2 separate regions of the Homo sapiens genome follow, and region 2 is linked to region 1. The links come from fine-mapping of genetic effects on gene expression. Tissue or cell type: fibroblasts. Region 1 holds a variant in brackets; the other region holds the start of a gene. All regions are shown on one strand. Distances are from middle to middle.

Region 1 (8,077 bases):
CTGTCGCCCAGGCTGGAGTGCAGTGCCGAGGTCTCGGCTCATTGCAAGCTTCGCCTCCCGGGTTCACGCCATTCTCCTGCCTCAGCCTCTCCAGTAGCTAGGACTACAGGTGCCCGCCACCACGCCCGGCTAATTTTTTGTATTTTTAGTAGAGACGGGGTTTCACCGTGTTAGCCAGGATGGTCTCGATCTCCTGACCTCGTGATCCGCCCGCCTCGGCCTCCCAAAGTGGTGGGATTACAGGTGTGAGCCACCGCGCCCGGCCCCCCACTCCCATTTCTTAGCAAACTTGAAGCCCATTAACCTCAATTCCCCGAGGCCTGGTTCCCGCCTTAGTGCATTCTGGGAACTGCAGTCCCATCTTTGAGCACCCCGCCAAAATCCCCGAATACTCAAGGATCCAGGGGTCCGGTCACTGCACCTGCAGCAGCAGCTCCTCAAATCGCGCCGAATCAGCACCGATCGCCTCCGCCTCGCTTAGCCCCATTCCCAGCAGCTTCGGGTTCGCCATGGCCCTGGGAAAGAGATCTAGGCGTCCTCGAGACCCTCAACGTGGGAAACTTTGCCCAGGATCCGAACCCCAGTGCCTGCTCTGGCCCTCAATCGACTCCGGATACCTACTATCCTGTTCAAAAACCTAAGACTGGCCTAAGACTACATTTCCATTCAAGACCGAACACCATCGTCAAATCCGTGGGGAATATGTGTCTCTAGACGCACTACCCTCCGTCCTACGTGCCGAACTGTAAACGAAGCCACACTTCCGGTCTATCGGTAAACACAGGACTGGAGTATGCCACACTTCCGAGTACCCCAGTGTTCATTCACAAGCTGGTATCGCGTTATCGACAAGCCACGCCCCTCGCATCAATCAAAAATAAACCCCAAGGCGGATCCCTGAGTGCCACACTTCCTGTATCTATGAAAGCCACACTTCCGGCTGGGCGCTGTGGCTCCTACCGGTAGTCCCAGCACTTTGGAAGGCCAGGGCAAGAGGATCGCTTGAGGCCAGGAGTTCGAAACCAGCTTGGGCAATACAATGAGATAACGTCCCACACCCCATCTCTTAAAAAAAAAAAAAAAGCGCCAGACTTCCACTCTTTCCACAACCAAAACTGGCCCCCTTACTTTGCAGTGAAGGTTGCATTTTCCAAACCTTAATCTCAATGTCCATCCTAAAAGGTACCCTTTTTATCTTTGAATTATCACTTCCTGCCAGCTCTAGATCCTAATACGTCCAGATCTAGACCCGCCAGGTCTAGATCTAGATCTAGACCTCTAGTCAATATAATTAGAAAAGCTGCACTTTGAGGCTGGGAGGCCGAGGTAGGAGGATCGCTTGAGCCCAGGAGTTCGAGACCAGCCTGAGCAACATAGCAAGATCCTGTCTCTACCAAAAAAAAAAAAAAAAAAAAAATTAGCCAGGCTTGATGGCACCTGCCTGTAGTCCCAGCTACTGTGCAGGCTGACGCAGGAGTAATGTTTAAACCTGAAAAGTCGAGGCGACAGTAAGCCGTGATCGGACCACTGCACTCCAGCCCTGGGCGACAGAGGGAGACCCTGTCTCAAGAAAATAAAAGGTAAAACAAAACCTGCACTTCCTGCTACTATAAAACAAGGCACTGGGAAGACGCATCAATAGGACGACCCTTTTTTTTTATTACTATTTTTTTTTTAGACACAGTCTCCCTTTGCCACCCAGGCTGGAGTGCAGTGGCGCGATCTCGGCTCACTGAAACGTACACCTTCTGGGTTCAAGTGATTCTCCCGCCTCAGCCTCTTGAGTAGCTGAGATTACAGGCGCGCACCACCACAGCTCGGCTAATGCTTGTATTTTTAGTAGAGACGGGGTTTCACCAAATTGGTCAGGCTGGTCTCGAACTCCCGACCTTAGGTGATCCGCCCGCCTCGGCCTCCCGAAGTGCTGGGATTACAGCCAAGAGCCATCGTGCCCGGCCACGCCGATCCTCATAAATCCGGAGCCCTCCTAACTATTCGCAAAGTACCCACATCGCCGTCTCCCCTTCCTCCCCGTTTTAAGCAGTGCGCATGCTCCTAAATACGCTTCCCCGTGGGGGACGTAGGCGGGGCCATCGGGTCCTAAGGAAAAAGTGTGGGCGTGGCTGCTCTCTGTATCTTGTAGCCCCACCCCATTCCCATTAGCCCCGCCCCTTTGGGCTGGAACCGGAGGTGTCGCTCTTCGGACCTCAAGGTTCCCCTTAACACAGAGCGCCCCGCAGTCTTCGCGGAAAGCGTTCGGGGTAGGCGATGGCTGCGACGCGTGCAGGGCCCCGCGCCCGCGAGATCTTCACCTCGCTGGAGTACGGACCGGTGCCGGAGAGCCACGCATGCGCACTGGTGAGAGTCTGCCCGGCCGGCGCTGCTCGCTGCGTTCCCCAGGCCTGGGCGCCCGGTTTTTCGCGGGGAGTCCCGTCATCCACTGCGGTAGCTCAGCCGCTCCGCCTCTCTTAGTCCCCGTGATTCCCGCCGCCCAATAGGATCGCGCCCTGTAGGACGCTCCCTTGAGCCTTGGCGGTGGCAGCCTTTTAGTCTGTTCCGGTCTTCCCCACTGGTTCTCTTGCCCCTTGATCCTGAACTCCTCGTAGTGTTTCCGCGGTTTTCCTGAACTCCTCTAGACGCTCTCGTGATTCCTCAGGGTCCCCTCAGAACCTGACGCCACCCACCAGACCCCTTAGGATTCCTGTGAGGCTCCAGTGACCCACAACCCCCATTGTCTTTCCACGACTCTTCAAAACATCCTATGGCTTCCATGGGCCTCCAGAGCACCCCAGACCTCCTGAGGGACTCCCTTCATCCCTTTGATTACCCAGAGACCTTCAGAACTTCCATGGAGCCCCCGTGATCCCATAGGACCCCTCAATACTCGTGGGGTTCATGTGACCTCATCGGAACTCTCAGGAGCCTAGAATACATCAGGACTTCCGGTTTGGGTTGGGTTTTTTTTTTGTTTTTTTTTTTGAGCCAGGGTCTCACTCTGTCGCCCAAACTGAAGTGCACTGGCGCTATCACACCACTGCAGCCTCAACCTCCTGGGCTCAAGCCATCCTCTCACCTCAGCCCCCCAAGTAACTGGGACCAGAGACGCGCGCCACCACTCTCAGCTAATATTTGTACTTTTTCTAGAGACAAGGTTTCAGCATGTTGGCCAGGCTGGTCTCGAACTCCTGGCCTCAAGTGATCCACCCACCTCGACTTCCCAAAGTGCTGGGATTACAGGCGTGAGCTACTGCACCCAGCCACATCAGGACTTCCTGTAATTACTTA[T/C]GGCCCCTCACAATACCCTCACGGGGCTCCTATGATCTCTCTAGCTCTCAGAATGTCCCATAGGGTTCCCATGATTGTTCAGGAACCCCTGAAGTCCTCGTGAGGGTCCCATGATCCCCTGGGGGTCCTCAGAACCTCCCTAGGACTCCCATGACCCCTCAGAGGCCCCCAGAACCCTCGTGGGGTTCCTGCAAATGAGTAGGGCACCTCAAACTTTCTGTCGTTTCCCCAGGCACTCTCAGAATTCCTTCACGGGGCTCTCATGATCCCCCAGGGTCCCCCAGCACCCAGGCGAAAGGAGCTTAGGCTTCTTTGAGGGGGAGGGCAGGAGGCCAGAGCAATGATCCAAGTGGAAGGAACTGGATCAGAACCCTGGCACAGCCTAGAACTTGGGGAGGCCAAGACGGGCAGATCGCCTGAGCTCAGGAATTCGAGACCAGCCTGGGCAACATAGTGAAACCTCGTCTCTACTAAAATACAAAACATTGGGCCAGGCGTGGTGGCTCAGACTTGTAATCCCAGCACTTTGGGAGTCCTAGGTGGGCGGATCACCTGAGGTCAGGAGTTCGAGACCAGCCTGGCCAACATGGTGAAACCCCATCTCTACTAAAATACAAAAATTACCTGAGCGTGGTGGTGTTTGCCTGTAATCCTAGCTACTTGGGAGGCTGAGGTGGGAGAATTGCTTGAATCCAGGAGGCAGAGGTTGCAGTAAGCTGAGATTGCACCACTGCACTCCAGCCTGGGCAACGGAGCAAGACGCTGTCTCCAAAAAAAATACAAAAATGGCTGGGCGCAGTGGTTCACACCTGTAATCCCAGCGCTTTGGGAGGCCGAGGCGGGCGGATCATGAGGTCAGGAGATCGAGACCAGCCTGGCCAAGATGGTGAAACCCATCTCTACTAAAAATACAAAAAATTAGCTGGGCGTGGTGGCAGGCACCTGTAATCCCAGCTACTTGGGAGGCTGGGGCAGGAGAATCGCTTGAACCCAGGAGGTGGAGATTGCAGTGAGCCGAGACCACGCCACTGCACTCCAGCCTGGGCAACAAGAGCAAAACTCCATCTCAAAAAAAAAAAAAAAAAAAAAAGGAAACAGAAAACAAAAGATTAGCCGAGGATGGCAGCACACACCTGTAGTCCCAGCTACCCGGGAGGCTGAGGTGGGAGGATCACCTGAGCCTGGGAGGTGCAGTGATCATACCACTGAACTCCAGCCTGGGTGACAGAATAAGACCCTGTCCCCCCTGAAAAAAAAAGAAGTTGAGGCCAGGCAAGTGGCTCACACCTGTAATCCCAGCAGTTTGGGAGACCGAGGCAGGAGGATCACTCGCACCTAGGAGTTTGAGACCAGCCTGGGCAACATGGTGAGGCCCTATCTCTATTAATATAAAAATAAAACATAAAAAGTGAAGTTGAGACTTGGACTTGAGTCCTTGCATTTCAGACCCGTGGTCTTGCCTACACCAGCAAAGTTCTCAACCGTACAGTCTCTGGGCCAGACTCAACCAACAAACATGTTTTCTTTGGCGTGAACTTTATTTTTTTTTTATGTGAAATGCTGGACAATTGATTCCATGTAAACATCCGGGAGGTCCTCTTGAAAATAAAATTCCAAAATGTGTCAACATTTGGCTCAACTTCCCTGACAAAAGTCATCTGGGACCAATAGCTCCTGTCTTTTCCATGAATCGTTAAGCTCCTCTTCTCATCCAGGCCCTCTTCTCAGGCCTCCTGGAACCCTCTGGACATTCTTTTGGAATTTTGTTTTTCTTTTGGGGGGAAGCTTTCCAACTTGCACAGAATAATTAGCATTTATTTTGAACTCCTGTTTACCCATCACTGTGCCTCAACCATCATCAACATTTATCCCAGCGCTGTTTCCTTCTGTATTTTCTTTGGAGTAATTTAAACAAATCCTGGATGTCACAGTATTTTCCTATAAATATTTGAATCCTTTCTTCTAACAGATAAGGGCTCATTTTGTTACAAAACTACCATGGTCTGTTACCACACTTAACATTAAGTCATTCTTTTTGTTTTTTGTTTGTTTGTTTGAGACAGGATCTTACTCTGTCGCCCAGGCTAGCATTCAGTAGCGTTCATAGCTCACTGCAGCCTGAAACTCCTGGACCCAAGCAATCCTCCCACCCCAGCCTCCTGACTAGCTGAGACTACAAGTGTGCATCATCATGACTGGCAAATTTTTTACTTTTATTTTTGTAGAGATGGGGTCTTGCTGTGTAGGTCCAGACTAGTCTCAAACTCCTCAGCTCAAGCAATCCTCCCGTCTCAGCGTGGGAAAGTGCAGGGATTACAGATGTGAGCTACCATGCCCGGCCAACAATCATTCTTTAATGTCATCTGATGCCCAGTTCATGTTCAAATATCCCTGACTTTCTCACAGATGTCTCTCTCCCTGTGGGCGTTTGAGTTTGGAACTTCTAAGTAACTTTTTTGCTTTAAAGAGAAAGGAGAAGCCAGGCACAGTGGCTCATGCTTGTAATCCCAGCACTTTGGGAGGCCGAGGCGAGTGGATCACCTGAGGCCAGGAGTTCGAGACCAGCCTGGCCAACATGGTAAAAACCCATCTCTACTAGAAATATATAAATTAGCTGGGCATGGTGGCGGCCGCCTGTAATCCCAGCTACTTGGGAGGCTGAGGTAGGAGAATCACGTGAACCCAGGAGGCGGAGGTTGCAGTGAGCTGAGATCGCACCATTGCACTCCAGCCTGGGAGACAAGAGCAAGACTCCATCTCAAAAAAAAAAAAGAAAGAAGGGCCAGTAAGAGAAAAATCAGGAATATGTGACATCAGAGATGCTAGGGGAGTCTGTAGAAGGAGCAAGTGAGCAGTGTGCTTTGGATTTAGCATCAGGGAAGACGTGACCAGGATGAGAAAGAAATATGGAGGAGAAGTCCGGGCGCAGTGGCTCACGCCTGTAATCTCAGCACTTTGGGAGGCCGAGGCGGGCGGATCACGAGGTCAGGAGATCAAGACCATCCTGGCTAACACAGTGAAACCCCATCTCTACTAAAAATACAAAAAAATTAGCCAGGCGTGGTGGCAGGCGCATGTAGTCCCAGCTACTCGGGAGCCTGAGGCAGGAGAATGGCGTGAATCCAGGAGGCGGACCTTGCAGTGAGCAGAGATCGCGCCACTGCACTCCAGCCTGGGTGACAGAGCAAGACTCTGTCTCAAACAAAAAAAAAAAAAAGAAAGAAAGAAATATGGAGGAGATGTGGTGAGTGAGATGTGGTAAAAAAATTTTTTTTCTTTGAGACAGAGCCTTGCTCTGTTACTCAGGCTGGAGTGCAGTGGCGTGATCTTGGCTTACTACAGCCTCTACCTCCTGGGCTCAAGTGATCCTCCCACCTCAGACTCCCAGGTAGCTGGGACTACAGGCACTCACCACCACACCCGGCTAACTTTTTGTATTTTTTGTAGAGATGAGCTTTCACCATGTTGCCCAGGCTGGTCTTGAATGCCTAGGCTCAGACCACCTCGGCCTCCCAAAGTGGACTCCAAATAGGTGCCACTGTTGTGGCACCAGCCCAAGGACTCAGTTGAGACCCTAATTGAATGAATTAAAGATGTTGACACATCCATAATCCCAGCACTTTGGGAGGCCAAGGCGTGCAGATCACTTGAGGTCAGGAGTTCAAGACCAGCCTGACCAACATGGTGAAACCCCGTCTCTACTAAAAATACAAAAACAAAACTAGCCGCATGTGGTGGCGGGCGCCTGTAGTCCCAGCTACTCAGGAGATTGAGGCGGGAGAATAGCGTGAACCCAGGAGGCGGAGCTTGCAGTGAGCTGAGATCATGCCACTGCACTCCAGCCTGGGTGACAGAGCAAGACTCAGTCTCAAAAAAAAAAAATGAAAAAATGTTCTAGAACTAGAGTGGTGATGGTTACACAACACTGTAAATGCACAGAATGCCACTAAACTGCTGAACTATACACTTTGAAATGCTCTATTTTACCACAAACTTTTTTTTTAAAGCAATAGGAGGAAAAGAATTAGCTGATGGGGCAGAGGGAGACAGACGTCCCCTCCTAGAGGATTCTGGGTAGGGGTTGAACTGCCCCAGCTCCTCCCGAACCCCTTTCCAAACTGTCTCTACCTCCCCCAGGCCTGGCTGGACACCCAGGACCGGTGCTTGGGCCACTATGTGAATGGGAAGTGGTTAAAGCCTGAACACAGAAATTCAGTGCCTTGCCAGGATCCCATCACAGGTACGAGATGTCCCCCAGTCATTAGTGGAAGGGAGGTATCTGTGCCCTCTAGCCCTACCCACCAACACCCATTCCCCTTGCCTAGGGCCCTGAGGGCAGGAAACAGCTGGTGGTGGGAGATGGGCTGCGATGTCTGGTTCCTTCTGAAACCAGTCACCCTAATTATGGTTCCGGGTCTCTGTGGAGGCTTTGTGAGACTGCTGTCTGTTAAAATAGCTTCCTTGCCCTGGAGGTGATCATAGCCGTGACCCAGCAGAGAATGGGGACCAGCTTTACACTCTTGGGCTGATCCAGGCTCCGAAAATCTCAGCCCCCTCCAGATATGACATGGGCTACTCCTCCCATCTGAGTCCCCCCACTTTTCTCCCCAGGAGAGAACTTGGCCAGTTGCCTGCAGGCACAGGCCGAGGATGTGGCTGCAGCCGTGGAGGCAGCCAGGATGGCATTTAAGGGCTGGAGTGCGCACCCCGGCGTCGTCCGGGCCCAGCACCTGACCAGGTGATGCAGCTGAGGTGTGGACCCCGGGAGGCGGGGAACCCCAGCATCCACTCG
Region 2 (8,077 bases), 590 kb before region 1:
CATGTACTGCTTTGCAGAGAGTTTTGAGTTTGAAGGTGCATAAGAATCACCAGGAAGGTGTGTTAAAACACAGATTCTGGGGCCCCATCCCCAGAGTTCCTGATTTGGCAAATCTATGATGGTACCTCATCATTTGCCTTTCTAGCAAGTCCCCAGATGACGCTGATGCTGCTGGTCTGGGACCACACTTTGAGAACCACTGCTCTGCTGCTCCTCCTGGCTTCTTCCCCTGGCCTCACTTGACACCAAGGTTTTGCCTGCTGCAGACCTTTTCCTTTTGGATGCGATCTGCCTCCAGGTCTTTTTTTTTTTTTTGACATGGAGTCTCACTCCATCATCCAGGCTGGAGTGCAATGGCGCAACCTCGGCTCACTGCAACCTCCACCTCCCAGATTCAAATTTTCCTTGTCTCAGCCTCCCAAGTAGTTGGGATTACAGGCACCCCCAAGCTGGCCCGGCTAATTTTTGTATTTTTTAGTAGAGCCAGGGTTTCGCCATGTTGACCAGGCTGGTCTTGAACTCCTGACCTCAGGTGATCCGCCCGCCTCAGCCTCCCAAAGCGTTTGAATTACCGGCATGACCCACTATGCTCAGCCAGCTCAAATGTCACCTCAGAGATAATTTTCCCTGACCAAATGTCAAATTGAAGTTCTCCTCTCTCAGCCACGTTCAAGCACATCATATTCCGTTTTTTTGTTTTTGTTTTTGAGACAGGGTCTCACTCTGTCACCCAGGCTGGTGTGCAGTGACATGAACACAGTTCACTGCAGCCTCAGCCTCCTGGGCTTCAGCAATCCTCCTGCCTTAGCCTCCCGAGTAGCTGGGACTATAGGCGCACACCACCACGCTCAGCTAGGTTTTGTGTGTGTGTGTATTTGTTGTTGAGATGAGGTTTCTTCATGTTGCCCAGGCTGGTCTAGAATTCCTAAGCTCAAGCGATCTTCCCGTCTTGGCCTCCCAAAATGCTGGGGTTACACCACTGAACCTGGACCCTATGTTACTTCTTCATAGCCCATCCTGCGATCTGAAATGACCAAGTCCATTTATTTATTTACTAATTTATTATCCACCCATGCTCCACCCAATCTGGAATGTAATATAAATACTTTTGTGTTATTTGCATGGTGTGTGCCCTGGGATTGGGAACACTGTAAGTGTTCAAGAAGTAGTCAAGAAAGAATGAATGAATGGGCCAGGCACGGTGGCTCACGCCTGTAATCCCAGCATTTTAGGGAGCCGAGGCGGGTGGATCACTTGAGGTCGGGAGTTTCAGACCGCCCTGGCCAACATGATAAAACCCCATCTCTACTAAAAATACAAATATTAGCTAGGCATGATGGTGCATGCCTGTAAGCCCAGCTACTCGGGAGGCTGAGGCACGAGAATTGCTTGAACTGGAGGCCAGAGGTTGCATTGAGCCGAGATCATACCACTGCCCTCCAGCCTGGGCGACAGAAAGAGACTCTGTCTTAAAAATAAATAAATAAACAAACAAACAAACAATGACGGACTAAGGGGAGGGGCAGTGATAGCAAGAAAAAGAAAGCCTATTTGGGGACTTGCAAGGAGAGAGACAGAGGACAGCCGGGGCACAGACTTCAGTGTCCTTTTCCTTCTCCTACTGACCCCACCTGCTTATGAAGCCAGCCTCGGATGTGCACGGGAAGGTTGGGATCCCTCCTGAGCGCATTGCCTCTCTTCCCAAAGGCGTGGATCTTGTTTACTGCCCGGGTGGGCTTCTGAGGAGAGAAGGGGACAGAAGTGAACAGGGAGAGCCTAGGATGGTCCTGGGAGGGGGTGAGGGTGGACACAGGCAACCGTAGGCTCTCGCTTGGCTGCCCTGAGAAATGGGTCAAGGACCAGCCGGGCGCAGTGGCTCACACCTGTAATCCCAGCACTTTCGGAGGCTGAGACGGGTGGATCACGAGGTCAGGAGATCGAGACCATCCTGGCTAACACGGTGAAACCCCGTCTCTACTAAAAATACAAAAAATTAGCCGGGCGTGGTGGCGGGCGCCTGTAGTCCCAGCTACTCGGGAGGCTGAGGCAGGAGAATGGCGAGAACCCGGGAGGAGGAGCTTGCAGTGAGCCGAGATCGCACCACTGCACTCCAGCCCGGGAGACAGAGTGAGACTCCGTCTCAAAGAAAAAAAAAAAAAGAAAGAAAGAAAAGGGTCAAGGTGGGGGCTGAAGTTGGAGATCAGAATTGGGAGGTGTTCTTATTGCAGAGTTAAGAGACTCTTTTTTTTTTGACAGGCTCTTTGGAGTGCAGTAGCCTAAACACTGCAGCCTTTACCTCCTGGACTCAGGTGATCCTCCAGCCTCAGCCTCCCATGTAGCTGGGACCACAGGCATGTCCCACCATGCCCAGCTAATTTTTTTACTTTTTGTAGGGGACGGGGGTCTCACTTTGTTGCCCAGGCTGGGAGAGACTCTTTTTTTCTTTTTCTTTTGAGACAGAGTCTCGCTCTGTCCCCCAGGCTGGAGCACACTGGCACCATCTTGGCTCACTGCAACCCCTGCCTCTCGGGTTCAAGTGATTCTCCTGCCTCAGCCTCCTGAGTAGCTGAGATTGCAGGCACGTGCCACCACGCCTGGCTAATTTTTGTATTTTTAGCAGAGACGCGGTTTCGCCATGTCAGTCAGGCTGCTCTTGAACTCCTGACCTCAGGTGATCCACCCGCCTCAGCCTCTTAAAGTGCTGGGATTATAGGCGTGAGCCACTGCGCCGGGCCGAGACTCTTTTTTTGATGGGCAGAGGGAGGTGTTCAGAGGCAAGGAAGAGGCTGTAGGGAAGCAATTTGGGGATCAAGCATCCACTGCCAAGAAGCAGATGCCCTTGGCCACCAGAGCCAGAGCTGTAGTAGGTCCTTTGGGATCTGAACTGGGACTATGGGCTGGGAGGGCCCCATAATCAGGGGGAACTCTCACGCTGAGTCTCCAGTGAATCAAAGGATGCCCTGGTGCCCTGCGGTCACACCCCTTAGCAACCAAGTACAAGGAGAGGAAGCCTCAAATCCCTCCATCCTGCCCGGATGGAGCCTCATCTCCTGATGCCCACAGATATCTCAGGCATCCTTAGCCAGGTCCCGACAATATGCCCTTCCTTGGAAGCGGTGGTACTGACCAAGGCTGAGATCAGATCTCTGGGCTCTGAACTTGAGAAACAATATGTGTGGAACGGCAGGAGGAAAAAGAAATGAGTGTCTCCCTAAGCTTTTGGCTGGGATGCCGATTTGGGATGCAAGTATCTGGAGGCCCCTTGGGTCTTATTGTCAGAGAAGGGTCTCTCCTTATAGGATTTCATTAGTGGGTAGATTGGATGGCGAGAGATAGGACAGCAAGTTCTGGCACTAATCAAGAGCAGCCACTACTTCTCAGAACTCGAGGGGCCTCATGGCTGGGGAGCGGCTTTATCTTAGCAACCAGGGTCAAGGGAGGTTGTTACTCTGGTTTAGAATTAGGAAAATACAAAGGGTGGGGACAGAGCTGGGAGTGCCTCTGAATTCCTAGCTGCGGTGTGTAGGCAATTTGGGACCTTACTATGTCTGGCAGACCCCGTTGCTAAGGATCTTTGTCCTTAACAACCAGAGTCCTTGGGGAAACAGAAGGATGGGCGGCCCAGAGCCCCACCTTCCTCCCCATCCCCGCCAGGAAGCTCAAACCTTGGGGCTCAGGCTGCTGAGCGAGGAGATGGTGGAGGCGCTGCTGGCCAGGCTCAGGCTGCTGCGAGGTCGGCTCCCCTCCATCAAGGGCTGGGGGAGAGAAAGAAAGGGGCTGTGTCTCTGCAGTGACGGGTGTGAGACAGAGATGGGGTCAGGGGCTTGGAGGTCGGAGGAGGCTGCAGAGAAAGAGCCTGTTGTTTCGGGACTTGGGGGGCTGGGGGAGGCCATGGCCCGTGACCACATACCAAGAGTGGTGCCAAGAGAGGTAGGCGGCCCTGGCAGCTGCGGGAGGGGGCAGCTGTCTGCAGCCCAGGCCAGAGAATAGGGGCTTCTTTATTCCTGCCCACTGCACTCAGGCCAGGAATTTGACCCTCTCTGTGCTTAGGGACTCCCCATTCCCTGCCTCCTTCCGGCTGCCCCAGGCTACCTGTCTCCCGCCCTCCCACATGCACCCCCAAACCACCCCTGCCAACTCCCCAAGCCAAGCCCTGCGGCACCAGGAATGTGAACCCAGAGAGCCCCTCCCAGCCCAGCCAGGGAACTTACCCAGCTCTGGGGTCCCAGTGACGGGGGGGCAAGAGGACGGTGTGGGTGCTGCGGCACCTAGGCAGTCTCCCGCCTCCTTTGTCTCTTAGCTGCTGTCTCTCATAGTTCTCAATCTCTCTCCTCACCTGCTCACTCACACTTTTTGTCTCTTTGTCTCCTGTCTCTTACGGTCTCTCTCTCTCTCTCTTCCTTTTACACTACCTCTCTCCCCACTCTCACTTTCTGTGTCTCCCTCTGATCTCTGTCTCTTCCAGTCTCTCTCTCACTCATTCTCTCCCTCTCTCTCTCTCTCCAATCTTTCTGTTTCTGTCCAAATCTTTTATTGTCAGACTCACAGGGTCTCTTCCTTAAGTCTCTGTCTCATTCTCTCTCTCTCTCTCTCTCTGTCTCTCAGTCATCCCCTGTGTCCTCTCTCCTTCACACTCAGTCTCTTCCTCTTTCTCTCTGGCTCTGCCGTTTCCTCCCTTTTCTCTTTCCGATTTCCCTTCTCACTTTCTCCCTTCCTCCCTCTCCCAGTTTCTCTTTCCTCTCTGCTGGTCTTTCCCTGCCTCTGCCAGCCGCCCACGCTGCTGTTCTCCCCTCCCAATCCCGGCTGTCCCCGCCCCTTCTGGCCTCCCCACTACAGCCTGACCTCTGGCTCAGCTGCCCCCATAGCTGAAGGGAGGGGCTTGGGCCCCCCAATTCCCAGGTCCCCTAAGGACCAAGGTTGGGACTTCTCAGTGTTTGGAGAGTTGGACTTGAGGCCTGCACTCCAGGGCCCCCGTGGGTTTGCTGCTGTGGTTGGGGGCCTGAGCCACTGGTGTCCTAAACGGAGGAGGCTTGTGTCCTGCAAGGGGTGGGGACTCAAATTTCCAAAGCCCTGGAGGGAATGGGTTAGGGATCCAGACTCCTGGGTGCCCGAGAAGGTCTGAGCTAGGATCAGGACTCCTGAGTCGTGAAAGAGCTGGGGGTCTGGAAACATGGCTGTGCTTGGAAGGGGCCAGGGACGGTTTGTCCAGGTCCCCTAGGGAGAAAAGGGGATGGTCCCAGTAGGGCAGGGTGAAATGGAGAGTTCCAAACCTCCACCTCAGATCCAGGTGAGAATTCTCTTCTAGACTGAGGACAACTCCCTCAGGAGAGAGACATGATTCCTTGGTATATTTTGAGGAACAAGATTATGCATCCGTAGGCAGGGGAGGAGAGCGGGGGGCTGGAACTGTCACCCAGGGCCTGGAACTTGTAGCAGAAGCGCCCCCACCCGCACAAAGAGTGCCACCCAGGCAGAATCGCGGCTTGTGGGGGCAGAGCTACTGCCTAAGTCTGAAGCAGATGACACCCAGGAGTGGAGCCTTGTGCCTGTGACCGGGAAGGAATCTGAGCTTTCGGTTTAACTGCCATTCACCATGCACCTGTTGAGCACCTACTGTGTGCAGGCACTGTCTGTTGCAGCCACTGAGAAGAAAGCAGTGAGCCCTGGCTGGGTGCAATGGCTCACGCCTGTAATCCCAGCACTTTGGGAGGCCAAGGCAGGAGGATCGCTTGAGACCAGGAGTTCAACACCAGCCTGGGCATCATAGCGAGACCTTGTCTCTATTTAGAAAATGAATTTCTTTTTTTTTTTTTTTTGAGGCGGTGTTTTGCTCTGTCGCCAGGCTGGAGTGCAGTGGCGTGATCTCGGCTCACTGCAACCTCCGCCTCCCGGGTTCAAGCGATTCTCCTGACTCAGCCTCCTGAGTAGCTGGAACTACAGGCACATGCCACTGCACCCGGCCTAAATTAATTATTATTATTATTTTTTTGAGACGGAGTCTCGCTCTGTCGCCCAGGCTGGAGTACAGTGGCACGATCTCAGCTCACTGCAAGCTCTGCCTCCCAGGTTCACGCCATTCTCCTGCCTCAGCCTCCCGAGTAGCTGGGACTACAGGTGCCCACCACCACGCCCGGCTAATTTATTTTGTATTTTTAGTGGAGGCGGGGTTTCACCGTGTTAGCCAGGATGGTCTTGATCTCCTGACCTCATGATCCACCTGCCTCAGCGTCCCAAAGTGCTAGGATTACAGGCGTGAGCCACCGCGCTCAGCCTAATTACTTTTTTTTGAAAAGCATTGAGCCCAGCAAAGTGCCTGATCTCATAGTGCTTACATCCTCATTCTCATTTGCAAGGAATCTGGACCCTGCTGTGACTATCTTGGTCAAGTGGCTTCATTTCCAAGCCTGTTTCCCCATCTGTGAAATGGGAACAATGACACCCTCGCACTCGGGGAGGAAACCAACCACATGTGAAAATAGGAGACTCTAGCCAGGCGTGGTGGCAAGCTCCTGTACTCCCAACTACTCAGGAGGCTGAGGCAGGAGAATTGCTTGAACCCGGGAGGCGGAGGTTGCAGTGAGCCAAGATCATGCCATTGCACTCCAGCCTGGGTGACAGAGTGAGACACCGTCTCAAAAAAAAAAAAAAAAAAAGAAAGAAAAAGAAAAAAGAAAGAAAAGAAAAAAAAAAGAAAATGGGAGACTCTAGGCTGGGGCCTGTGGGCTAAATTGGGGTAGGAGGCCAGGCACAGTGGATCACAACTGTAATTCCAGCACTTTGGGAAGCCAAGGCGGGCAGATCACCTGAGGTCAGGAGTTCAAGACCAGCCTGGTCGGCCGGGTGCGGTGGCTCACACCTGTAATCCCAGCACTTTGGGAGGCCGAGGCGGGTGGATCACAAGGTCAGGAGATCGAGACCATCCTGGTTAACACGGTGAAAAACCCCGTCTCTACTAAGAATACAAAAAAAATTAGCCGGGCGTGGTGGTGGGCACCTGTAGTCCCAGCTACTAGGGAGGCTGAGGCAGGAGAATGGCGAGAACCAGGGAGGAGGAGCTTGCAGTGAGCCAAGATCGTGCCACTGCACTCCAGCCTGGGCGACAGAGCAAGACTCCGTCTCAAAAAAAAAAAAAAAAAAAAAGACCTGCCTGGTCAACATGGCGAAACACTGTCTCTACTAAAAATACAAAAATTACCCAGGCATTGTGGCACATGCCTGTAATCCCAGCTACTCCAGAGGCTCAGGCAGGAGAATCGCTGGAACCCAGGAGGTGGAGGTTGCAGTGAACCGAGATGGCGCCACTGAACTCCAGCCTGGGCGACAGAGTGAGACGCCTACTCAAAAAATAAATAGGCTGGGTGCAGTAGCTCACGCCTATAATCCTAACACTTTGGGAAGCCGAGGCAGGCAGACTGCCTGAGCTCAGGAGTTCGAGAACAGCCTGGGCAACATGGCGAAACACTGTCTCTACTAAAAATACAAAAAATTAGCTGAGTGTGGTAGTGCGTGCCTGTAATCCCAGCTACTCGGAGGCTGAAGAGGGAGAATCGCTTGAACCCGGAAGATGGAGGTTGCAGTGAGCCGAGATCACGCCATTGCACTCCAGCCTCGGTGACAGAGCGAGACTCCATCTCAAAAAAAAATAAAAAAATAAAAAATAACAAATAAATAAATAGGCCTGGAGTGGTGGCTCACGCCTGCAATCCCAGCACTTTGGGAGGCCAAGGCAGGCAGAACACCTGAGGTCAGGAGTTCGAGACCAGCCTAGCAAACATGGTGAAATCCCGTCTCAGAAAAATAAATAATGAATAAATAAATAAATAAATAGGCCGGGCGCGGTGACTCACGCCTGTAATCCCAGCACTTTGGGAGGCCAAGGCGGGAGGATCCCCTGACGTCGGGAGTTCCAGACCAGCCTGACCAACATGGAGAAACTACGTCTCTACTAAACAAATACAAAATTAGCCGGGCGTGGCGGCACATGCCTGCAATCCCAGCACTTTGGGAGGCCAAGGCGGGAGGATCCCCTGACGTCGGGAGTTCCAGACCAGCCTGACCAACATGGAGAAACTACGTC

What was found. PIP is the estimated chance that this variant, and not a neighbour inherited with it, causes the effect.
Region 2: PLEKHA4 starts here. The variant in region 1 is fine-mapped to the expression of PLEKHA4 in fibroblasts (GTEx, PIP 0.98).

What each region holds. Positions count from the first base shown.
Region 1 is chr19:49,451,064-49,459,140 of GRCh38, forward strand. PIH1D1 (PIH1 domain containing 1) reads right to left here and starts at 751. Exons shown (of 9, transcript NM_017916.3): 1 at 422-751. The coding sequence starts at 511. ALDH16A1 (aldehyde dehydrogenase 16 family member A1) reads left to right here and starts at 2,162. Exons shown (of 17, transcript NM_153329.4): 1 at 2,162-2,358; 2 at 7,423-7,525; 3 at 7,897-8,023. The coding sequence starts at 2,269. RefSeq lists enhancers at 379-1,057, 682-961, 972-1,021, 2,755-3,714. The variant T/C (reference allele first, on the strand shown) is at 3,286.
Region 2 is chr19:48,863,872-48,871,948 of GRCh38, forward strand. PLEKHA4 (pleckstrin homology domain containing A4) reads right to left here and starts at 4,746. Exons shown (of 20, transcript NM_020904.3): 1 at 4,212-4,746; 2 at 3,666-3,755; 3 at 1,632-1,739. The coding sequence starts at 3,749. RefSeq lists an enhancer at 7,495-8,077.